Regions from separate parts of the Homo sapiens genome. Here region 1 is linked to region 2. The links come from fine-mapping of genetic effects on gene expression. A gene starts in region 2. The other region holds a variant in brackets. All regions are shown on one strand. Distances are from middle to middle. Region 1 overlaps LOC124901774 (a long non-coding RNA gene). Region 2 holds the start of GIMAP5 (GTPase, IMAP family member 5).

Region 1 (2,908 bases), 57 kb after region 2:
TTTGTTGTGTCTCTGCCAGGCTTTGGCATCAGGATGATGCTGGCCTCAAAAAATGAGTTAGGGAGGATTCCTTCTTTTTCTATTGATTGAAATAGTTTCAGAAGGAATGGTACCAGCTCCTCCTTGTACCTCTGGTAGAATTCGGCTGTGAATCCATCTGGTCCTGGACTTTTTTTTGGTTGGTAAGCTATTAATTATTGCCTCAATTTCAGAGCCTGTTATTGGTCTATTCAGAGATTCAACTTCTTCCTGGTTTAGTCTTGGGAGAGTGTATGTGTCGAGGAATTTATCCATTTCTTCTAGATTTTCTAGTTTATTTGCGTAGAGGTGTTTGTAGTATTCTCTGATGGTAGTTTGTGTTTCTGTGAGATCGGTGGTGATATCCCCTTTATCATTTTTTATTGCATCTATTTGATTCTTCTCTTTTTTCTTCTTTATTAGTCTTGCTAGTGGTCTATCATTTTCTTGATCTTTTCAAAAAACCAGCTCCTGGATTCATTGATTTTTTTGAAGGGTTTTTTGTGTCTCTATTTCCTTCAGTTCTGCTATGATCTTAGTTATTTCTTGTCTTCTGCTAGCTTTTGAATGTGTTTGCTCTTGCTTCTCTAGTTCTTTTAATTGTGATGTTAGGGTGTCAATTTTAGATCTTTCCTCCTTTCTCTTGTGGGCATTTAGTGCTATAAATTTCCCTCTACACAGTGCTTTGAATGTGTCCCAGAGATTCTGGTATGTTGTGTCTTTGTTCTCATTGGTTTCAAAGAACATCTTTATTTCTGCCTTCATTTTGTTATGTACCCAGTAGTCATTCAGGAGCAGGTTGTTCAGTTTCCATGTATTTGAGCAGTTTTGAGTGAGTTTCTTAATCCTGAGTTCTAGTTTGATTGCACTGTGGTCTGAGAGACAGTTTGTTATAATTTCTGTTCTTTTACATTTGCTGAGGAGGGCTTTACTTCCAACTCTGTGGTCAATTTTGGGATAGGTGTGGTGTGGTGCTGAAAAAAATGTATATTCTGTTGATTTGGGGTGGAAAGTTCTGTATATGTCTATTAGGTCCACTTGGCGCAGAGCTGAGTTCAATTCCTGGATATCCTTGTTAACTTTCTGTTTCATTGTTCTGTCTAATGTTGACAGTGGGGTGTTAAAGTTTCCCATTATTATTGTGTGGGAGTCTAAGTCTCTTTGTAGGTCACTGAGGACTTGCTTTATGAATCTGGGTGCTCCTGTATTGGGTGCATATATATTTAGGATAGTTAGCTCTTCTTGTTGAATTGATCCCTTTACCATTATGTAATAGCCTTCTTTGTCTCTTTTGATCTTTGTTGGCTTAAAGTCTGTTTTATCAGATACTAGGATTGCAACCCCTGCCTTTTTTTGTTTTCCATTTGCTTG[G/C]TAGATCTTCCTCCATCCCTTTATTTGGAGCCTATGTGTGTCTCTGCACGTGAGATGGGTTTCCTGAATACAGCACACTGATGAGTCTTGACTCTATATCCAAATTGCCAGTCTGTGTCTTTTAATTGGAGCATTTAGCCCATTTACATTTAAGGTTAATATTGTTATGTGTGAATTTGATCCTGTCATTATGATGTTAGCTGGTTATTTTGCTCGTTAGTTGATGCAGTTTCTTCCTAGCCTTGATGGTCTTTACAATTTGGCATGTTTTTGCAGTGGTTGGTACTGGTTGTTCCTTTCCATGTTTCAGGCTTCCTTCAGGAGTTCTTTTAGGGCAGGCCTGGTGGTGACAAAATCTCAGCATTTGCTTGTCTGTAAAGTATTTTATTTCTCCTTCACTTATGAAGCTTATTTTGGCTGGATATGAACTTCTGGGTTGAAAATTCTTTTCTTTAATAAAAAATAAATAAATAAATAAATAAATAATTTCACGGTGAATAAAAAAAAAAAAAAAAGAATGTTGAATATTGGCCCCTACTCTCTTCTGGCTTGTAGAGTTTCTGCCGAGAGATCAACTGTTAGTCTGATGGGCCTCCCTTTGTGGGTAACCGGATCTTTCTCTCTGGCTGCCCTTAACATTTTTTCCTTCATTTCAACTTTGGTGAACCTGACAATTATGTGTCTTGGAGTTGCTCTTTTTGAGGGGTATCTTTGTGGCATTCTCTGTATTTCCTGAATTTGAATGTTGGCCTGCCTTGCTAGATTGGGAAGCTCTCCTGGATAATATCCTGCAGAGTGTTTTCCAACTTGGCTCCATTCTCCCCGTCACTTTCAGGTACACCATTCAGATGTAGATGTAGTCTTTTCACATAGTCCCATATTTCTTGGAGGCTTTGTTCATTTCTTTTTATTCTTTTTTCTCTAAACTTCTCTTCTCACTTAATTGCATTCATTTCATCTTCCACCACTGATACCCTTTCTTCCAGTTTATCGAATAGGCCACTGAGGCTTGTGCATTCATCATGTAGTTCTTGTGCCTTGGCTTTCAGCTCCATCAGGTCTTTTAAGGATTTCTCTGCATTGGTTATTCTAGTTAGCCATTCATCTAATTTTTTTTCAAGGTTTTTAACTTCTTTGCCATGGGTTCGAACTTCCTCCTTTAGCTCGGAGTAGTTTGATCATCTGAAGCCTTCTTCTCTCAACTCGTCGAAGTCATTCTCCATCCAGCTTTGTTCCGTCGCTGGTGAGGAGCTGCATTCCTTTGAAGGAGGAGAGGCTCTCTGATTTTTAGAGTTTCCAGTTTTTCTGCTCTGTTTTTTTCCCCATCTTTGTGGTTTTATCTACCTTTGGTCTTTGATGATGGTGACGTACAGATGGGTTTTTGGTGTGGATATCCTTTCTGTTTGTTAGTTTTCCTTCTAACAGTCAGGACCCTCAGCTGCAGGTCTGTTGGAGTTTGCTGGAGGTCCACTCCAGACCCTCTTTGCCTGGGTATCAGCAGCGGTGGCTGCAGAACAGT
Region 2 (2,908 bases):
GGAGGGTCTGGCTCAGGGAAAAGGGTGAAGCAAATGAACAAAATGCACATTCCGATTTGAAAATTGCATGAACCTGATTTTACCATGAGAAGAGCTTATTTTAGCAAATTACAAGAAAGCAGCCTCTTCCATACTATTTTAGAAAAGATCAAACCACTTCTTGTCTTCCTTGTTCATAAGTATCTCCTTCACCCATCTGCCCCAGCCCATGTATTTCCAGGTATTGGAATCATGTGTTTTGCGGTTTGGTGTGCGTCCGGCAGGGTGTCATAGGAAAAATGTGGGGCATCTGGGGGAGCATGGGGTAGTTTTCAGAAGTTGAAAGTCACAAGACAAGGTCCACTCAGGGGTCTTGTTTGGAACATGAGGCTCCTGGGGTGGGAAAATATCCCACATTTGCCCTGGGGAGCCCTAAGAATCCATCCTCAGCTCCCAGGCTTGTCTGAGACATGGTACGTGTCTGGCTGGTCTGGGACAGGAGAAATTAGGAGGGTAAAATTGAGAAGAATGCCCCGGCATGCTAGGGGAGATGGGGGAAAGCCTATCACCCTCTGGGAGCTTCAGTTCTCCCATCTGTCCCACTGATGAGAGGATCAGTTCAGCCTTACTCCCTGAGAGTTTCATGGAGATCGACTTGGCTAAGTAATGGGCAATGGGGCAGCAAAGCCCGCTGTCCTGGGACTGGGCTGTGAGTGCAGGCACAGATTCTTCAGGCTGTGCTCCACCAGCTGTGCACCTGCTGATGCCCGCAACACTCATCACCATTGCCCCGTTTTACTGACCAGCGAACCCAGAAGTGAGGGGATCTGTGCAAGGTCATGTCAGAAATGAACAGCTGTGACCAAACTGTGATCCTTTCAATTCCCAAAGTCTCTGTGAGCATAAACCCAGTTCTCCTTACCAGAAACGGTTGTTGTGCCCTGTCCTCCAGGGTGGCAGTCACTGAGGCTCTGGCCGCTGGTCCTCTCTCAGGAAGGTGAAGTGGCAGCAGAGAGAGTCCTGCTCTGCGTCTGTGTGCGGGGATGCTGTTCACAGGGCTGAGGGAGGTTGAGCAGACGCAGTTAAGGAGGAGCCATGTGCTGGGGCTGAAAGCTCCATGACTCAGCTGCACAAAAAGAAAAGTAGAGATTATGGAGTGTGTCCCCCACACCTCTGCGGACTAGGACACCCTGGTGTTGGCTGGAAACTGATTGGGAACAAGACCCTGAAAACCAGCCGAATGCAGCGATGTGCTGCTTCCTTAACGGGTCACTTCCTGTCATGAGCCTGCCCTGGGACAGTGTGCCCCATCCCATTTCCTTTTTTTTTTTTTTTTGACTGTTTCAAGCAAGCAGTATTTGGAAGAAGGAGATATGAAGGGAATTACAGACTCTCCCACTTCCAAGTTCAGAAAAGGTCCCTAGTGACTGGAAAGTTCTGGGCAGCAGCTGCTGCCCTCAGCACCCATCACCGGGGCACCTTCTCCTCCCAGCACTCTTGGGCCCCTTCTCACAGGCTCTGCTTCTGGAAAGTTTCTGCTAACCAGGATCAGAAAGGCACTCTGGTCCAAAGAGGACCAGAACAAGCCCTTGCAGGGTTTGACTCTGGGCTCGTGACTGACCCTGGTAAGCTGTCTGGCACGTGATGGAGCCCACCCTGTGGGGACATTGTGGAGTCTACGTGTCAGTTTATCTGGTAAGGGTTGAAAGCAGGGTGATAGAACCTCTATTTTTGAATTGATTGCCATTTAAGGCTAGAGCAGTGGACATAAACCTGATTGCCATTTAAGGTTAGGGCAGTGGACATAAACCTGATTGCCATTTAAGGTTAGGGCAGTGGACATAAGGCAATTATGCGATGGAGAACACAGTGGGACTTAGGCGGAGGGCCGTCATGGCCCAGAGAATCCCCATATCCTTTTCTGTTGACATTTGAAGTGGGGCTTACAGTCATATGGTAACAATTGTCTAAGACTTGATGGGAAAACAATTTTAAACAATCTCCTGCTAGCCCAGAAAACCTCTCCACAGAGGCAGAAGAGAAAGAAAACAATTTTATTATTGAATGTCCATTGAACCAGAATGTGATCTGGATCCCAGACAATCCAGGAAGAGATTGCAAAGACGGAGAGGGATGCCACCTGGTTATACAGCCAGGCAGGTGCCACCTATTACACACGTGTTCTCAAGTTAAACCATAACTAATCCTCAAGTAAGAGGACTTGACAGCACCCTTTGACATGCATAGTTCATCCTAAATTCACTCAGTAATCATCTGTGTTGGCTAATTGTCTTTCCAGAGGAAAAGTAAACTTCTCACATCCTCTATGGCAAGAGGAAGATTTGCAACTCAGAAAGGTGCTGGCAGATGTCAGGCTCCTACCTAAGTTAGGCTCCTAAATTAGGCCCCTATTTTCACACAGAGACTGGGAGGTGGGGACGCTACCTTCCTTGATGTTTGCATTTCAAAGGGATGGCTTCCAGATGCTCTACAGACAGCCCTGGGCTGTCAAACAGCTTTTAAAAAGATTTGCATTACAAAGGGTAGAGAAAGATTTCACACTTACAAGGTTTCTAAAGAAAATGCTCTAAGAAGGGAGGGGTAATTCTTTTCCACTTTGTTTTTTCCCCAGAAAAGAGAATTAATGTTTTCTCCTTATTTTTGATTTTTATTCGCCCTTACATTTTTAAATTCTTCAAGGACTTTCAACCTAGTCAGCACTCATAATTTATGTGAATTGAGCAGAGCAGGGCAGAAAGTGGGCTGTAATCTGACCAGGATTTCACCCTTGCTAGATAGGGACCAGGTACTCCCCCAGCACCTGGCTGGAATCTTTCAAAAACTTGACCAACAGAGTTCACATCAAAATCTTATAAACAGTGAGGGGCACCGAAGCTAACCATTCCCATCAATGTAGCAAATTCACTTA

The links. PIP is the estimated chance that this variant, and not a neighbour inherited with it, causes the effect. A credible set is the group of variants that fine-mapping cannot tell apart.
Region 1: its variant is the best candidate, but not a certain one, in a credible set for the expression of GIMAP5 in whole blood (TOPMed, PIP 0.83).

What each region holds. Positions count from the first base shown.
Region 1 is chr7:150,679,192-150,682,099 of GRCh38, reverse strand. The region is part of intron 2 of LOC124901774 (a long non-coding RNA gene); the gene reads left to right. Among named protein-coding and RNA genes, the nearest start is that of GIMAP2, 5.1 kb to the left of the region's middle. The variant G/C (reference allele first, on the strand shown) is at 1,390.
Region 2 is chr7:150,735,702-150,738,609 of GRCh38, reverse strand. It overlaps GIMAP5 (GTPase, IMAP family member 5), which reads right to left and starts at 1,192. Exons shown (of 3, transcript NM_018384.5): 1 at 902-1,192. GIMAP1-GIMAP5 (GIMAP1-GIMAP5 readthrough) reads right to left here. Exons shown (of 5, transcript NM_001303630.2): 3 at 902-1,105. RefSeq lists enhancers at 1,116-1,195, 2,071-2,908.